2 separate regions of the Homo sapiens genome follow, and region 1 is linked to region 2. Evidence: fine-mapped QTL for protein levels in blood plasma. Region 2 holds a variant in brackets. A gene starts in the other region. All regions are shown on one strand. Distances are from middle to middle.

Region 1 (9,896 bases), 28 Mb after region 2:
AGAGGACCCTTGGCGTCTCCTAGGAGTCTGGAGTCCAGGTCACGTCAAGTCTAAAGTACAGTTTTCAGATTTTCAAGAATGGATGATACATCAGTTTCATATAATAGTGTCCACCCCACATACACACTCTCATTCTCATTCCTGCTCTTAAGCTTCCCAGTTAGTGGCAAAGACTAACTTGATAATTTTACTTATTTTGTGTATACCCCTCTTCAAGGGGTAATAAAGTAGATATAGCAAAAATTAAAATATAGTAAGACAACCAATTCAAAGTAGGCAAGAAAGACAAAAGCAAACAAATGTAGGGACAAAGAAATGGATGCAGTAACACGGTTACTAAAATATGTACACCATGAAGATCTGTTTACTTACTATAGGTGGGCCACAGACTTGGCACCCAGCTTCCTGACTTTTACATAAAGAAACAAACTTGATCAGCTAGACTAGTTTAAAGAAAAAAGCAAGCCAATTGTTCAGGAGAAGCACACCATTCCTAATGCTAACAGACAAATTCCTCCCAAGGGTCCTCATAAAGAGGATAGAGTAATATAATGAACATCTTTTCAGCAGTCACAGCAATGAGTTCTGTGGGATTGTTTCTCCTAGTTCTCTCAACACAGAAAGATAACCTCTTACCAAAGCACATTTCAGCGAAGGCAATTCTGTACTGGGATTGATATACTACATTCCAGGTAAAAGAACAAATCTACATAAAAGTAAACAAAAACCTCCCAGGTGTAGATTTTAAAATAAAGCAATCATATTAAACCTTGTCTGTATACTGGTATTACCAGGACATTTTTTAAAAGTTACTGATGCCTGAGTCCCAACCTGGGATAACCGCATTTGGATTATCCCCCAAAAAAGTGGGGCCTCCACTTTTTTAATGCTCTTCAGTCCAGATAATTCTCAAGCTTCACCAGAGAGTCTTTTACATTATCTGGATACCCCGGACCAATTAAATTAGAATCCTTCGGAGGGAGACCCTGGCATGTGTATTTTTTAAAGCTTTCCAGTTGACTCCAATGTTCACCACGGTTAAGAACCATCGATCCTGAAGAATGGGTGGACCTCATGTAATGCTTCTTGAATACCGCTTCTTTTAGCTGAGTTTTGGAAAGGTACTAAGCAATAAAAGATTCTTACATTATGCTTCCCAGCTCATCTATATTGTCAAATAAATAGGGACCCAAATGTCTTAATCAACAGTGAAGCTGGGGTAGGTTGGACTTTATTTTATAAAAACTGAGGAATCTCCCTGGGTGGAGGCCATCTTGACACCCAGGGGAGTTGAGGGAAGCCTGGAAGCAGTGCCAAATCTTTTCTTTTGATAGTGCATTTGGATCTGCTCTAATGATCAGGAAAAAAAATGGCCAATCAAGTTCTATATTTTTATTTCCAAAGCACAATCTTTTAGCAAAACAGGTTAAACCAACAGCCATTCAAGCCATAAGAAAACAACCCAATAAAACACTAGTTTTTTGTTTTTGTTTTTGAGATGGAGTCTTGCTCTATCACCCAGGGTAGAGTGCAGTGACCCAATCTTGGCTCACTGCAACCTCCGCCTCCCGGGTTCAAGCAATTCTCCTGCCTCAGCCTCCCGAGTAGCTGGGATTACAGGCGCCCACCACCACACCGGGCTAATTTTTGTATTTTTAGTAGAGATGGGGTTTCACCATTTTGGCCGGGCTGATCTCGAACTCCTGACCTCTTGATCCACCTGCCTCAGCCTCCCAAAGTGCTGGGATTACAGGCATGAGCCACCACACCCAGCCAAAACATCTAGTTTTAAATCATGCTACTTTCTGAGAATTTGTGAGATGGCTGAATGAAGTGACTTGTCACATATATTAATCTATAAACCAGTCAGAAATCAGGAAACATGTACCAAAGACAAAAAATTTTTGCCAGGCAGTCCCTTCTGACTATAATTAATAGCAGAACCAAGAAGATTAAAAAATCCCAATAACGGCCGGGTGCTGGCTCACGCCTGTAATCCCAGCACTTTGGGAGACTTGAAGCAGGCGGATCATGAGATCAAGATATCGAGACCATCCTGGCCAACATGATGAAACCTCGTCTCTAGTAAAAATACAAAAATTAGTCGGGCCTGGTGGTGTGCACCTATAGTCTCAGCTACTCGGGAGGCTGAGGCAAGAGAATTGCTTAAACCCGAGAGGCGGAGGTTGCGGTGAGCCGAGATCGCGTCACTGCACTCCAGCCTTGCAACAGAACAAGATTCTGTCTCAAAAAAAAAAATCCCAATAACAACCTCTATCAAATTGGATCTTGAAATGAACACTGGACAGAGACTATCCAGAAACAAGTTTTAAGAGGCTAATATTTGCTCATAGCCTAAATTGAAAGAGAGTTGGTTCACCCCTGATTTTCATGCACACAACTTTATACTAGAGAGCCGAAGACGTTTAAAGCATCTGTCTAAAGTCTGGAGAATATGAGCAGAAAGGAGAGGTAATATGCCTTCTCTAATTGCAAAGTCAGGCCATGGATTCAGATGCTATTTTGTGGCTACACAGATTGAAGATGAATGAAGCTGGTATCCTAAGCTACAACGGACCTTTCAACCATAAAGGCAGAAGATATCCATCACACACCCACTCTCCCTTAGGGATAAAGCCCTAAAAGAATCTAAATCTTTTCCTAGTGCCTTCAGGATATATATATATATATATATGGTACATACTAGGTCTAGGCCTACACATTCAAAGTTTTACTCTCCATTACCACTGATAATTTTTTGTCTTCTACGTGAATATAATATATATTCCTACATGTGATTCCCCAGTCCTTCTGTACCAAGAATAAATAGAGAAGAATTGGGGGAAGGGGAGCATCAGAGATGGGCTGTATACAAAATCATAAGGAAAATTTAGTGATCTAATATAAAAAGGCAAAGTAAGAGACTGAAAAAAAAATCAAAGAATCAAAATGAAAGAAGAAATCCCGGTTCCAGAGAGCAAGTGGTAAAGCCAGAGTAAGGCTAACTAGAAACCTGGTAATAGAATTAAGTGCCTTCCAAATGTATTTATTTATGTGGAAAATGCTTTAGAAGTTTAATTTCATGTGCGGCCAACCTTGAAAAATGGGTTTCCAGTTGTACAATGTAAAGACACAATCCTGAAGGTTTCTAGAAAGCAACTGTTATTATGAAGAGTATACCTAACATCAATTTTGGACAATCTTTTCGACCTCCTCCAACATCAACCTGGAAGACCAACGATACAAAAGCACTCCACAGGTGTAATACCTGGGAGTTTGGGGATTTCAGGTTGCCTGTTCCTCTTCACTAGGCCTTTCTGCTATAAAAAGTCACATCCAGGAAAGATAATCATTTTTTTTTAAACTATTTGTGCTTTAGTCATAATTATCCTGACAAAACCAGACAGATTTTTAAAACATTACTGCCACAGACTAGCCCATTTTAAATTTGTTCCGACCTCAGATCCCTCCCACTATAGGTTTAGTAACCTTAAATAGAAAAGGAGAACCCTAGAATACAACACTTGTTACAAAAAAAAACTTCAGGAGATCTCAAATGGCCTCCAGCAAACCCTGAGAAAAAGCAGTTATAAAGTTTGTTTCCAAAGGCAACGACCTCTTATCCACTGTAATCTCAGTTAAGAGTGGTTCCTATCACTAAAGTCCCTTCAGCCCTTCAGCTCTGACAAACCACCTTCAAAATGGTCACACAGAAGTGCACTGCACCCTTGTATTCAAGTTCACCTAGACCCTTAATAGAAATGCTGACCTGGGGCACTACTCCACACCTGCTGAATCAGAATCTGCAACGTAGCAGGATCCCCAGGCGACTCCCATGCGTCTTAAGCAGCGCTTACTGATGGCTGCGCCATCAGGGCAAAACTGGAAGTTCCGGGGCTGTCCTAACCCCAGCAGGTCCTTTGCTCAAGAGCCTGGGGAGTCACTGGCTACTGCTGTTTTCCCTTCTTCTGGACCCAACCCGAGCCCCGCTCCGCGCGAGTAAAGCTCTGAAGATGTGTGTCAGGGCGAGACTCCTGGCCTGGCACACGGTCCTCGCCCCACCAGCCCCAGCCCGGGCCGACCTCTCACCTGCTCCTCCAGCGGGAGCGGCTTGAGAGGACTCCGAGCCCCGTGTCGAAACACGACCTGCACCATTTTCAACTTCAGCAGGCTGCGGTCGACCGGACACTGGCCATCGGCCTCCTGCAGCTCGGCCAGGGCCACCCGCCGCTGGTGCAGGCAGTACGCCAGCGAGGTCAGGACGCCCACTGGGGTCCACAAGCGCATGCTGAACACACCAGTGATCATGGTGGTAGGCCCTCGCTGCCCTCCGGGTTGAGGCTGCAGGAGGCAAACACAAGTCTTCTGCGGGCGCCGGGGCTCAGCGGGCGCCCCCAAGTCCGCGGGAACCTGCGGATGCGTACATCCAGCCCTTCAGCAAGCAGGGACCGCTGTGCCTCCCGGCCCTGAGGGAGACCCCGAGTGGGAACGGGGGAGAGAACAAGAGGTGGCAGCAGCGAAGAGTCCCTGGGAGTTTTAACCCGGGTCGGGGTTGGTCGCTCCTGCTGCACACCGGGCCGGGGGAGATCGGATCCTTATCTTTTGCCCGACGAGGAACATTAAACTTGTATTTCAAGTTTGGCCTCCAGCACTCTTGAAGGAACAGGAGCCGGCCCTGAGTTCCCTGGCGGCAGCGGCTCCACCAGCAAGGACTACTCGATTCCACTTTTCTATAAGCAAGCTCCTACCCACCTCCTCACCTACTCAGGGACCCGTCCCAAGTGGACCCGCGCACAGGAGCACGGGAAAACGAGTCCTGTGGTGACACCTCGCCTGGAGACTCAGAGCTGCGGAAACTACAACTCCCACAAGGCTGCGCGTACCGCGGCTCCCAAGAAGTGGCTTGTACCCGCCCCCCTCGCCTGCGGGCCTCGCCCCTCCGGCCCAGCCAGCCGTTTTCCAGGCGTGGATGGCCCACGGACGTGCCTGGTCCGGCAGTGGAGTGGTAGTGAATCTGTCGGGCCATGGAGTTTGCCAGGCAGGAGGATCGCGAGCGCAGGAGTAGAACTGGGTGGTGGAGGGGAGTAGTTTGAGTCTAGTTTTGAATGTAGAAGACTTCCTTCCAGTCCTGGAAGCCTGGTTGCTGCAGCGAGGAGCTGAGACACCTGCCGAGTGATTGCCATTTGCGAAACACAGCACTAGGTGCTTTATATTTAGTCATTTACTACTCCCTTCTCTGTTTTTAAAAAAATTCTCAAGCTTAAGTCATTGTAATCATGTAGAACTTTCAGGTCACTGATGTGTTTACTTCCATCCAGAATACTTCTTGTGGAAAAAGCCAGGCCTTGCCTGTGGGTGTCCCAGTGATTAAGAACCTAAGAGGCGCCATGGCTCACGCCTGTAATCCCAGCACTTTGGGAGGCCGAGGCGGGTAGATCATGAGGTCAGGAGATCGAGACCATCCTGGCTAACACGGTGAAACCACGTCTCTACTAAAAATACAAAAAAAAAAAAAAAAAAAAATTAGCCAGGCGTGGTGGCGGGCACCTGTAGTCCCAGCTACTCAGGAGGCTGAGGCAGGAGAATGGCGTGAACCCGGGAGGCGGAGCTTGCAGTGAGCCGAGATCGCGCCACACGACTCCAGCTTGGGCAACAGCGCAAGACTCCGTCTACAAAAAAAAAACAAAAAAAAACCTAAGAACACAGAACAATGCCAGCCTTACCACCTGCTAGTCTGGTTTCTGTTGATATACAGGTATCCCAAGCCTGTGTTTCCAGATCTTTGCAACAGGACACAATCTGGGACCCACTATGTGTCTATCTCCAAAGATCAAACTGGGCCAGATGTAAAGACAACATACTTACAGAGCATGGCTCCTGGCCTGAGAACAAATTCTGTTCACCAAGCTGGAAGGTTCTGAGTGCTCCCCTCCCTGATGCAGGGAGGAGGGTCATTTTGGAACACTACATATTGTCACAATTTTCTCCCTAGCCCAGCCAAGGGACTCACTTTTCAGAGTCTTATTGTGTGTGCTGATGTGATTAAAAATCGAATACTGTTTGCTATGGACTCAGTTGTGTCCCCCGCCAAATTCGTACCCACTAAGTGACTGCATTTGGACATAGGACTTTTAGAAGGTGATTCTGTCAGAGGCATTTGAACCATAGTGACTCCATCTTGAATAGCGGCTGGGTAAAATGAGGCTGAGACCTACTGGGCTGCATTCCCAGGAGGTTAGGCATTCTCAGTCACAGGATGAGGGGGGAGGTCAGCAGGACTGGTATCACAAGAAACCAGTCAAAAAGACCCTGCTGATAAAACAGGAAGTGGTAAAGAAGCTGGCCAACACCAACCAAATGCAAGATGTTGATGGAAGTGACCTATGGTCAAACTCACTGCTCATTTTACGTTAATTATAATGCATTAGCATGCTAAAAGACACTCCCATCAGCACTATGACAATTTACGAATGTCGGGGCCAGCAGTTACCCTATATGGCCTAAAGTGGGGAGGAACCCTCAGTTCCAGGAAATCCCACTCCTTTCCCAGAAAATTCATGAATAATCCACCCCTTGTTTGGCATATAATTAAGAAATAACCATAAGTATTTTCAGTTGAGCAGCCCATGCCCCTGCTCTGTCTATGGAGTAGCCATTCTTTTGTTTCTCTTTTTCTCTAATAAACTTGCTTTCACTTTATGGACTCGCCCCAAATTCTTTCTTGCCCGAGGTCCAAGAACTCTCTCTTGGAGTCTGGATCAGGACCCCTTTCCAGTAGCAATTTTGGTTAAGTGAAGATATAAATGTGAGGTCCTAATCCAGTAGGATTGATGGCTTTATAAGAAGAGAAAGAAGGATCTCTCTCTCCACACAGGAGATCTGATGGTTTTATAAGTTTTTGGAAATTCCTCCTTCTTTCTCCTCTCTGGTCTGCCAACTTGTGAAAAAGGTGCCTGCTTCCCCTTCTGCCATGATTATAAGTTTCCTGAGGCCTCCCCCTGTCCTCAGCCATGCAGAACTGTGAGTAAATTTACTCCTTTGTTTATAAATTGTAGTATCTTTATAGCAGTGTGAAAACGGACTAATACAGCAATGGTCCTGTCAGGGCTCATGTGTCCTGTTGGAGGGGGAGTGTGGGGAAGTGTGGGGAACAACTTAGCAGCAGATCTCCAAAAGAAACCAGAGTGAGGGTGGAAAATAGCTGATTTCATGTGGTTGTTAAAAGCACTGTTTGTCAACACATGTGAGACAAACCATGGGGAGTCCAGATGTATTTTGTGTGTGATAGTAGTGGCAGTGAGCTGCAATTTAAAAGAGGCTGGGCCGGGCGCGGTGGCTCACGCCTGTAATCCCAGCACTTTGGGAGGCTAAAGCAGGCAGATCACCTGAGGTCAGGAGTTTGAAACCATCCTGGGCAACATGGTGAAACGCTGTCTCTACCAAAAATACAAAAATTAGCCGGGTGTGGTGGCACACATCTGTAATCCCAGCTACTCGAGAGGCTGAGGCAGGAGAATCGCTTGAACCTGGGGGCAGAGGTTGTAGTGAGCCGAGATTGCACCACTGCCCTCCAGCCTGGGCGGCAAAGTGAGATTCCATCTCAAAAAAAAAAAAAAAAAAAAAAAGAGAGAGAGAGAGAGAGAGAGAAAGAGAGAGACTGGAAGTCCTGACCCAGGGTAGGACCGTGTGGGTGGGGGTGTTAGGGTGGTTGCAGGAAGCAGGGGAACACTGAGTAGCTGTTATTTTGACCCTGGTTTTAAACTACCAGGCAGGGATGGCTCGGGAAATAAGCCCTTTCCCAGCCAAATTGTCTTCAGAGGATTGCATTTAATATTATGTAAAAACTCAGTTTTAATAATGAGATTAGATAAGAAACAACCACATTCACATTTTTTTCCCCAGTGGTGAGCACAGTGCCTGGCTTGTAGTAAGTACTCCATAAATACTTGCCAAATGAAATTATAGGATATATCATAGGAATGTTGTTGAGCCATTGCTCATTACATCATTTATTGCTTCCTTTATAAATCTCCTCCTGAGAAATTTGGTTTAGAGTGTTAGAATTAGAACAAGCATTAAGAAGTATGAAGATTACTTTTCCTTCAATTTTGTCTTGGTTGTCAGGAAGCTTGGTGCCTAATTTTCAAACTTACCTATAGAAAATATTTAGAATCTAGTGGCCAGTATAACTATGATCTTTCCCTCCAGAGTATTACTCTGGATTGGATGGGAGCAAAACTGGAGAAAGGACCGTTAGGAGGCTGTTGCAGCAATCCAGCTATGAAACATGTAAGAGGTAGTTAACAAGTGAGAAGGAGGAAGGAGTCAAGGATGACTACTCTACGTTTCTGGCTTGGACAACCTGCAGATGATGCCATGCACCTGGGAAGGAGGTTAAGCAGAAATGACCAAGTTAATTTTGAATATGTAGATCATAAGGTACTTAGGTATCAAGGAAGCCAAGAGAAAAAAGGTTTTTTTAAAAAAGAGAATGGACAATAGTGTCAAATGGAACTGAGAAGCCAAGTAATGTAAGGTCCAGTGTCCAATGGATTTAACAACAAAGTAATCTTCTGTTAGTTAAGTGAGAGCAGTCTCAGTGAAATAGTGGAATCCTAATCCAATAATGGGGCAGAAATGGAATGCAAGTGGGAAGTAAGTGTAGACATCTTTAAGAAGCTTAGCTGAGAAGAGGGAATGAAAAAATGCAGTAGCTGGAGGTGTTTGATTCATGAAATTAAGGGAGAATTGTCTTTTGAAGATGAGAGAAGCTTGTATATATGTTTAAATGTTGATAGAAATAAGTTTCCAGATAAGGAGAGACAGGATAATAGATCTGATTAAGTGCTTAGGAGGGCAGGATAAAATCAGAAATGAGCTTAAGTGGCATAATTAGCTTCAGAAAGAAAAAGTATGTATTTTCCATGTTTATAGGAGGGGAATAAGAAAGAATAGGCATGGGTGAAATACATTCATGGCATGGAGATTCATGGGGCTTTTTTCTTTGTTTTTTTTTTTTTCTGCAAAATCAGAGTATGAGTTAGAGGGGTGGTGATTGGTGCTCCTGACAATTTGAGGAATGTGAGAAAGTAAAATACCCACAGTATACACAAGAGAGAGGGTCACAGCTAGGTAGCCAGAGGTTTGCCAGGTACCATGGAGAGCCCAATAGAGAACAGTTTTCTCCAACTTTATGGTACATCATAATCACTTGGCTTATTTGTTAGAATGTAGGTACAGGAGCACCAATATGTCTTACTATAGCCGAGTGGAGTCTGGAACTCTGTGTTTTAAACAAGCATCCAGGTGATTCTGATACAGAAGCTCTTCAGATCACACATTGAAAACTATGGATAGAGAGTCAAAGAGGGGTTAGTTTTAGTTTTAGTATGGAGGTGTTTTTTATAAAATGGGTGCTATAGTTTGGATGTTTGTCCCCTCTAAACCTCATGCTGAAATTTGATCCAGTGTTAGAAGTGGGGCCTAATGGGAAGTGTTGGGTCATGGCAGTAGATCCCTCATGAGTAATAGATTGATGCCCTCCCTCAGAAGTGAATAAATTCTCACTCTCCAAAAACTAGTTGTTAAAAAGAACCTGGCACCTCCCCACCTCCTTGCTTCATTTCTCATCATGTTATCTCTGCACTCACTGGCTCTCCTTCATCTTCCACCATGAGTGGAAGCAGCCTGTAGCCATCACCTAATGCATATGCCCAACCTTGAATTTTCCAGCCATCCAGAATTATGAGCCAAATAAACTTGTTTCTTTATAAATTATCCAGCTTCAGATATTCCCTTATAGCAACACAAAATGAACTAAGACAATGAGGACAATTCCCAATGGAGGGGAAACAAGAAGACAAAAAGAAATAATTGGTAGAGAAAAATTCCTAAGG
Region 2 (9,623 bases):
GGACTAGTACCATACCAGCCCCCCACACTCTTCATCTTCATGTGACCTGTCTGAAATTAAGGCAAGCAGAGCTCCAGAAGGCTGGGTCTTCACATGAATTTTAAGGCCAATTTGAGCCATCTAAATGATATTTTTTCCAGGCAAATCGTTTCAAGATGAATAGTTACTACCGTTAGAAACTCTAACAACATTAGGGTTTAGCCAACTTATCAAAGAGAAGGTAAAACCTGTAGGACCCTCGAGTTAACTAATCCCTGGGTCAATGAACATATAAGTAAGAAGAGCAAGGAGAGAAGAGTATAAAAATGAGTAAGAAAAAATAATGAGAAGGAACCTATATGCCAAACATTAGGGTAACTGTTCTATATCTTGACTGTATCAACGTCAATACACTGGTTGTAATATTATGCAACAGTTCCATAAGATGATGTTACCACTGGGAGACCCTTGATAAAGGGTACAGGAAATCTTTCTATATTAATTCTTATAACTGCACAAAACTACAAGTATCTGAAAATAAAAAGTCTAATTTTTGAAAATGTTAGGGCAAGCAACATAGGGTACAGAGAAGACATGAAAGATGTTGAAAATCTCTGGTGAAGTATGGATGTGAAGGGCAAGGCCAAGAATAATGAGACTGGAGCAAGCTGTGCTCAGCCTGAGGCACCCATACTTAAAGGATGGGGATTTGTGGAAGAAGACAAAGAAAGTCCACCCAATGTACTAGGAGATGGAAAAAGGACTGGTATGCACTGCCTGAAAAAGATCACACTAAAGGAAGCTAAACATGAGCCCACATCTGGCTAGGTTGCAGGTCACCACTATAGCAACAATGGAGACTAAGGCAAAGGCTCCTACATCCCTTAACAAAGAACAAGATAATGTCTTCAACTTACAACCAGGAATCTGTGATTAACAAAAACAGTATAGGGCCAGATCATATGAGCTATAAAATAAAGTGGTGATTGGTTTTGTTTGAGGTCTTTTAAAAACAGTTTAGAGAGCTATCAAAGGAACTAAAATTTAGATCATCCGAATTCTCTAAAACATGACAAGTTGTTGAAAATAAAAATATGTCAAGGTGTCCTTCATTCTTCCTTTGTAAATAAAACTCAACAAATAATTTTAAAAGGCACTCTGATAAAGAGGCCTCCTAATAAAAAAAGAACACAATATTTGTGCTTGGAAAATGCCAAGGCTATCTCTAGACCCAGAATACCTAGCAATTTGACTGGCTCATGTATCTGTAGAAGGCCTGTTAGCCATCATTACTCGCGGATGCTAGTTGTGTCTGACTTAACCTAACTGACTGCCTGTTCTTTATTCCTATCTAACATGTACCTCCATTACTATAGAACCAATATCACTCTATCACACTTATTTGGTTGCACATCTGTCTCCCACTACTTGGCTGCAGTTTAGAGGGGTTCTTTTGTATTCCCAGCAAGAGCCAACTGCCTAGGATGGCAGGATGGGTATGTGGATGTCTCCGGAACTCCGTGCTCGGCATAACCCTTCCATGCTCTTCTCCTAACTCCAGCCATATAATTCTTGAAGGAGCAACCATGTCTTTACATGATCAAACCCTCCTGGCCATGGCTGACTGACCCAAGATGGGCATCTGATCCAAGCTACATCACTGTATCTCTCCCAAATTATTGGAGTAGGACCACTTTGCCACATAGACCAAAAAGATGAGGAGGCTGGTCTGCAGAGAAAGTGATATGGGTGAATCAGAAGTGCACAGAGAGCCAGGCACAGTGGCTCACACCTGTAAACCCAACATTTTGGGAGGCCAAACAGGAAGATCACTGGAGCCCACAAGTTAGAGACCAGCCTGCAGGCACTACTTGGGAGGCTGAAGTAGGAGAATCACTTGTGCCATGATCATGCCACTGCACCCCAGTCTGGACAATAGAGCAAGACCCTGTCTCAAAAAAAGAAAAATAGAAAAGATGTGCACAAAGAGAAAAAAACATGGTGGCATTCAAGTTGTTGGTTCCAATTGCTACTGAAGCCCAACTACTAGTAAGCCTACTCAGTGGCATAGCCATTCTGAGAGATGCCTCTTGCAACAGGTCTTTCTAATTTGAAACGAGGCTGTGTCAACTGCATCCCAAAGTATTAATACAGAAAGAGTGAGTGAGGGATGAGGGAGTGAATGGGGGAGGTAATGAGGGTAATGAGGGAAATGAGGGAGGAAGGAAGGGAGAAGATGAATAAGAAAGTGAGAACACTGAGGTAGTGAGTGAGGGAGTGATTGCAAGGAGTGAGTGAGCGAGGGAGGGAATGCGTGAGAGAGTAAAAGATGGAGGGAGGTGAGAAAGGGAGGGAGGAAGGTAAGAAAGGGAGGGAGGGAGGGAGTCAGTGAGTGAGTGAAGGAATCAGAGAGTGAAGGAGGGAGGGAGTGAGCTCACCGGCAATAATCTCCCTCAGGGTAGATGATGTCATTTATTACAGAAACTTTGCTGTCTTATAGTGCTAGCAGAAATGGTACCTCAAAGTAATGACAGCTGTGTTATTAGGATGCAGGTGGGATTGAGAAATGAAAACATGACCAAGAAGTAGGTGAAGAGCTACTGCAACATGAAAATTGCTGAGTCTCATCTATTATACTTA[T/C]GCTAACTCAAATATCCACTGCCCACCAACCAAACTGACTTGCTGAATGTGAACAATTTAGATGTCATTTTTCTTTATTGAGGCTTTGTGATAATTTTGGGTACTATAAGACACAATGTGTTTAAAGCTATTTTGTATACATTTCTTATGCACCATAATAAACAGACACTGAAATAATGTAGCAAGACAAACTAGGTAAATAAAGGAAAGGAAATGTGGCACTCTTGGGAGAGGAAACCAGTAGCCATTGACTGCCTACTGAGAAGCAAGCACTGTGCTTGGGCTCCCATAAAAATTGTCTCATTTATATCTGAGGAAACAGCCTCAAAGAGGTAAAATAATTTGCCTTTGTAAGCCAGTGAGTGAAGGACAGTTGAGATTTGAACTGGAGCTGCCTCACTCTAAAATTCTTAACAAAGACCTGAGGTGAGAACCTGAACATATCAAGCCATCTCTGCATGTCTCGGGCTTCCCAAGGGCACACAGACATGGGGAAGTGGACAGGATGGAGGAGGTGAGGACTCAAATCATGACTCAAACAATTGGTTACTGGAAACACTTGTGACTGCAAACTCCTGTCTAAAAGGGAAATGTATTTTTAGGTACAGTCCACTGATTTTTGAATGAGACTGAATTTTGAAGATTAGCTGCCTTCACTGAACACCTTTGGACCATGCATCTGTTCGATAGTGCTTGTTAGGGACAGGAAATTTAGAGATCCAAGAAGATAGTGGCTTATAAGTAATTAGCTACTGGATGGATCACACTTCTCTAAGGTTCAGGCACATTTCTACAAATTCACATTTCCTCCTAGTCCTATTTCTGCCAGATTATTTTCTCCCTATTAAAATTCTATCAACTGGTTCTAAAATTCAGAATAGGAAAAACAGTAACCAGGGTGGCCATAAAACTTGCTTATTCTAAAATTCCCAGTGGAACATCTGCTATGATATAACAACTCCCTTCACGTCACCACCCTCCTGGCACAGGAGAAAACCAATGCTAAAGACTAAAAATAAAAAACTTCAGGTTCAGGAAGGTAAAAAAAAGGAAATAAAATCTTCCAAAGTTCACACGGTTGGTGAGTGAGAGTGCTGCATTGAAACCCGGATTGATCTGACTGCAAATCTGATGCTCTTTGACTGCAGCAGAGTTGAGTATTCAGCCCTGGATGTGATCAACACAATCTACAGATGAGGTCGCTGATCCCAGGGTCTTACAGCACCCTGAGAAGGCATAGGTGCATAAGACAGTTAAGGAACACTCGTATTAGAAAGGAATAAAGGCAGAAGGTCACTAGATATTTGAGTGGGAAAAGTTCTTGGCGATCACCTAGAGGTCTTAACGTGTATGCTCTACGGTCATTGAGCTTATCCCACTGGTGCAAGAAAGCACCAGCCTGGGCTGGTGGTTGAAGATTTACAGAGGAATACAGGATTAAGTCTTAAACATATTAAAATAACTGCAGTGTATTCTTTGGCTGGGGTTTTAGAAGAAGAAAAAGTGGGAGGTCATTGAGGCTTTGACTTCGAGTATGAATTCGGAACTTGATACAACAAGTAAAGGAGGATGAGGAAAGACATGATCGATACTGTGTTTGAAGGTAAGTTGGCCAATAGAACATAGAAGGGATTAAAAGCAAATGACTTTATGTTAGTAGGGAAAGCAGGAGAGAGCACTAAGTTATAGGCTACCTAGCAAATAAAAGCCTTTGGTGAAACAGGAGAGCTGTATTGTTTCCATGTCCTACCAAGCTACTAAATCTTCAATACAAACAAGTGTCAGCATGTATCATCACCTGTGTCAACACACAAACTTTGCTGGTGAACTCCCAAAATGTTGCACAAAGCTCAGTTAGGCAAGTTTTCAAGAGCAATAATTATCCCTCTCAGTAATTTCCACCTGCCAGATATTGCAGGCTACTGTCATTTTTTTAACATCAGGACTGAGGCAGTGGACTAGTTAGGCTCTTATTTCCTATGGGCAAAAGAGAAAGAAGATAACTTGTTTTTAAAAACTACCCTCTCTAATGCCACAATGACTCTGGAATAATCTGAAATGAAATGTCAAACTAGCATATCCTTGGCTGATACCTTAAACACTGAGTGCCACCTGTAACTACTGACAATTTTCTGGTTGATCACTTTTGCCTCGTAAATATACTCAAATCTACACCTCTCCTTTGTACAGTTTATACTAACCACAATAACTTTTGTTGATTCCTCAAACATTAAGTTCTCTCCTGCCTCAGTGCTGCTGCATAAGCTGCTCTGTCCACCTGAAACATTTTTTCCCTGCTTATTCACATGGCGAGGTACCTGTCTTATCAATAGAGTAGGTCTCCAAATGCACATCTCCTCATGATTCTCCACCATTGCATCATTCCATTCAATCCATCCTGGAATGTATCACGAGCTGTGATTTCATATTTATTTACTCTTTACAGTCTCTTCCCCATTTCGCTATAAGCTCCAGGAGGGCAGGGACTGTGTCTGCCATTCACCTCAGTATCTATGCCAGCCACTGTACTAGACACTTGGTGTCAGTGGTGGAACTGACCTTGGACAGCATCTAATCTAACATGCTCATTTTACAGATGAGGAAACTAGGACCTGAGAGGTATAGCAACTTGCCCAACTTTGCACAGTTAGTTGGCAAAATAATTAGAAGTGAAAATAGCTCAGTGCTGATAAAGACTTTGGGGTGTGAGATTGCTGCAGATCAAGTTAGTTTTCAAAATAAAGAAGGCCAATCTGAGCTGACTGTTGAGGGATGTAGGGAAAGAGGAAGAAACTCAGAGTGCTACAAGTGAAGATGACATGGCATTACCAAGCCACCATTAGCAAAGGAAGTATACTGTTTTGGTTTTGCAGGAGTAGGGTCACCTCCATGCTGATCTTTTCTTGTTGCTCCATCCTCTGGCTTCAGGCTGAACAAGTAAGATTATGGGCACAGTCAGCCAGGCGTGGTGGCTCACGCCTATAATTCCAGCACTTTGGAAGGCTGAGGCAGGTGGATCACGAGGTCAAGGGATTGAGACCATCCTGGCCAACATGGTGAAACCCCGTCTTTACTAAAAATACAAAAATTAACTGGGCATGATGGTGCATGCCTGTAGTCCCAGCTACTTGGGAGGCTGAGGCAGGAGAATCGCTTGAATCCAGGAGGCGGAGGTGGCAGTGATCTGAGATCGTGCCACTGCACTCCAGCCTGGCGACAGAGCAAGACTCCATCTCAAAAAAAAAAAAAAAAAAAAATTATGGACACAGCCTGTGGCAGTAAATATAACAGGGTGAACCTAAGAGGTCTGTGCTGAAATAGAAACCATGGCCTGGGCCTCATTAGCACCACGCTTCAGCCAAGTGAGCCAAAGACCATGAAACAGTCAGCATTTATGAGCTGTAACACGCAGGGACACAAACAGCTCATTATGGCTCTCTCAAGGCAAGGGCCCCACCCACAAACCACTAATCTGATTTGGAGCTACAAGTGATGGGTAAAAAATAGAGGGGGACAACAAGAGAAAGAAAGAAAAGAAGAGAAAGGAATTGAAAAAAGTAAGGTGCTGAGCCTCGACTCTCATCCTTTCCAGTCATCTCTCAACTGTGAAGTCTGTGGGAAAAAGTCTGATCACATTACTGGTCCAGTTAAGGGTCAACTCTCATTGCAACAACAATCTCCACAAGAGGAACAAATAAAAAATGAGCTTGGCTGGCCCTTGCACTGAGTCTGCTACCTTCTCCTCTATGGCTGAGTCAAGAGAGCTCCATCTCCTATATACCTTTCCAACCAGCAGTCACCCAAGCCCCTGAGTTCTGGAGTTTCATCTCTTTCTGTGTCAGAGCAGATCATTCCTGGGACTTCTATCCTACAAAACCTCAGCTCCATACACAGGAGACTTTCTATCACGCTGCTGAAGTTGGAGCTGAAGAACAAAGAACAAGCTTGAGTGTCCCATCACCTGCTCGGAATAAAGTTGGGTGAAACATTCTGTATAAACACTGCTGTCTACAGGGCCTGCCTACTGAGAGGATGGTCTGGGAGTATAGATGTGGCTAAGGGGATAATGTAGTTGTGGAAAGGATATTCATACACAGAATAAATGCAAGAAATTCCTCCACTAATTCTAGACAGCATCATCTTTTTCAGGACTTCTCAAAGGCCTGGTTTCCCTGCATCATGACCAATGTATTTTCTAAAGAGCCGCCAGGATGATCTTAACATGTAAAGTAGAATGCGCCACTCGCTTGTTCAAATCCTTTGATGAATTATTTTGCATTTAGGATAAAATTCTAACACCTACCAGTGTTTTCTGCCTATCTCTTTAGGCTCTAACCATGAAATATCACTAGCTCCAGCCACTCTGGGCTTTTTTCATTTCTCAAAATGATCACATTCTTTCCCTCCTCAGTGGCTAGCACACGTTATTCCTTGTGCCTGGGATAGTCTTATCCTCACTCTCCCCAACTCCTACTCATTGTCTATATGGAAAATGTTACTTTCTCAAAGAGACCTTACTTGCTTGTCACTAAACACAATTAGTTCTGCCTATTAATATGCTCTCCAGATACATTCTATGTTTCCTGCAAGGCATTTAGTACAGTTCAAAATTTTATGGAGAATTATATTGTCTATGCCTGTGTTTCTCACTAGACTGTCAGTGCCATGAAGAAATGGGGGGTAGCTGTTTACCTCATCACTGAATCCCCAGCATGAAACACAATCCCAAGCTTAAATAAATATTCGTTAAATGAATGTTTATCTGCTTAAGGTTCTCTTATTTAAGTTATCCTAATCCCAAAATAATAATTATCTTTCAACTCACCCTTCTCATAGCAACAGTATCTCTATTCTGTTCCTACCCAAAGTGTCCGTCACCCTTGTCTACACCACCAGTTCACACGCAAACCCCTCATCCCAGTCCCCTTCCTGTGTCACTGAACTCTATCTCATTTGTATCACACCCAGATTCACCTTGCCTTTGCCCACTAATCCTTCAACTACGCCTCAAGGGCAACTCTACATTAAGGTGTACAACTTCCTTCTTTGACTGAAACCTGAGTTTTCCCTAAACACACCAGCCCAGTCAGCCCTCTGCGGTAGAGCTCCTGCAGTCCTCCTCTTCTAAACACTGCCACTGACAGGAAACTAGGGGAGAAAGAGCGGGTTTTCTTTTTATTCCCCAACGTCACTACTAACCTCAGCAGTAAAAACATATGCACTGAGTTATTTCTAGGTTCCAGATGATATGTGCTTTACATTGATTGTCAACTATAGTCTTCATATATAATTAGTCTAATTTTACAGATTTAGTACAAACTCGGTACACACTGAAGAAAAATACTAAAGTATCTTAGAAAGGTAAGAAGAGCTGTGAATTTGGAGATGAGGTTGGGCTGGGAACAACTGGAAAATTTAATGCTGTAATTCATTCATTCGTTTATCTAAAATATATATATGTACACATACACACACACGCACACAAACACAATGTGCCAGGCTCTGACTATACACAATGGGATTATAATGGTGAACAAAACAGCCATGGCTTCTGCCTGCAGAACTTACAAACAGCAGACTTATAACCAAACAAACAATGATGACACAGAGTGACAGGTGCTTTCATAGATACCTATTGCCTTGGGAGTACAGAGTAGGGAGAATAGAGAGGAACTAGAGAATGTAACTTTTAAGAGAAGGCCTGGGAGGAGCGTGCCAGGTTGTGAAAGAGGGGAGAAGTGTGTGAGGGAGTGTGTAGAGAAAGGGTGGAGTGCGGAGTATTTCAGGCAGAAAGCATAGGCTTGAGTTGAAGAGACAGCATGGTTCATTTGCGGCAATGAAAAAAAATTCTTGTGGTTGAATTATAAGAAATGCATTAGGGGAGTGAAGAGAGGTGTGGCTGGAGAGGGAGTTACATGCACAGCCTTGGGACTAAATCCAAAGACAAGGAGGACCCATTGAAGTGTTTCCAGCAAAGAAATGACTCGATCCAATGCATGTTTCAGAAAGTCCACTCTGCTGCAGTGAGGAGAATGGACTGAACTCCACCTCACCCCTCCAGGTCAACAAAAACTTCAAGAACTGCAGAGTCCAGGCTCCTGTGGCCACTATTGGCCACTATAGCAATGAGAAATACTGCAGTGCATCTGGGGCAGATTCCGGAGGCAGCAGCACTGAAAAGCATCCAGGCTCAGCCACTGGGTGGATTGCCATGGAGGCTGGGCCAGTACTGGGCATTCAGAAAGCTGACCCCCGCCACAGAGAAGAAAGTGGTGCCAAGCTTTGGTCTCCTGCTAGGAGGCCCCACTCTCTGGCTCTCCCCACCTTAGGCTGCTGGGTTGTTGAGCCAGTTTACATAAAAGCCCCTCACTGCACCAGGAGGAAAAACTAGCTGCAGCCAGGTTGAGAGTGAGGGGATCCAGGGGAACACCCACCTCCCCTGTCTATGGGCAGGCAGTTACTCTGCTCAGAATGAGTAAAATGGAAAAAAACAACATGGCACCTATTAAAAGATTCTACAACATAAAACATGGAGAATGTAATGCTTAAGATATTGATGAAAAGCACACTGGGAAAATTATTCACTTACAGGAGCTAATACATTTTAGAAAGAACTGCTCCTGTACACTCAAGACATTTAGACATGTTTACGTTCTACAAAGAAATAAAAAATAATATAGGACATTAGTCTCTGATCAAAGGGGCTGAGAGGCAGGCAGAAGAAGCTATAAAGGACTGACCTGACAATGAAGAAATATAAGTCAGTGTTATAAAGAAGAACCTTAAGAGAGCTCTCACAGAACACAAAACAAAAAATGAACAGATTAAAAATCAAGAGAGATTTTAGCTTTGCAGAAGAAAGAATGAAGACCTAATTGCAAAGATAATAGGTTTTCCTGACAACTCTACAACAAATGAAAAAGAAGGCAGGGAGCCCAGTGTTACTTATGAAAAAGAAGAAACACTCAACTGGCATTGCATTTCCCTAGAATAGTAACCAGAAG

Which allele goes with the higher level. Positions count from the first base shown, and alleles are read on the strand shown. Strength reflects both the effect of a copy and how common the allele is.
As copies of T replace C in region 2, the plasma level of the protein whose gene starts at base 4,784 in region 1 goes up (weak association).

Evidence for each region. PIP is the chance, under the fine-mapping model, that this variant and not a neighbour inherited with it causes the effect. Protein levels are from antibody-based Olink assays in UK Biobank. Linkage for the fine-mapping came from a reference panel and not from the study's own genotypes, which makes the PIPs less certain.
Region 1: ACP6 starts here. The variant in region 2 is fine-mapped to the plasma level of the ACP6 protein (UK Biobank, PIP above 0.99).

Annotation. Positions count from the first base shown.
Region 1 is chr1:147,665,741-147,675,636 of GRCh38, forward strand. It overlaps ACP6 (acid phosphatase 6, lysophosphatidic), which reads right to left and starts at 4,784. Exons shown (of 10, transcript NM_016361.5): 1 at 4,090-4,784. The coding sequence starts at 4,308. RefSeq lists enhancers at 3,632-4,575, 3,787-3,846, 4,487-4,736, 5,177-5,246.
Region 2 is chr1:119,969,790-119,979,412 of GRCh38, forward strand. The region is part of intron 5 of NOTCH2 (notch receptor 2); the gene reads right to left. Among named protein-coding and RNA genes, the nearest start is that of ADAM30, 78 kb to the left of the region's middle. The variant T/C (reference allele first, on the strand shown) is at 2,620.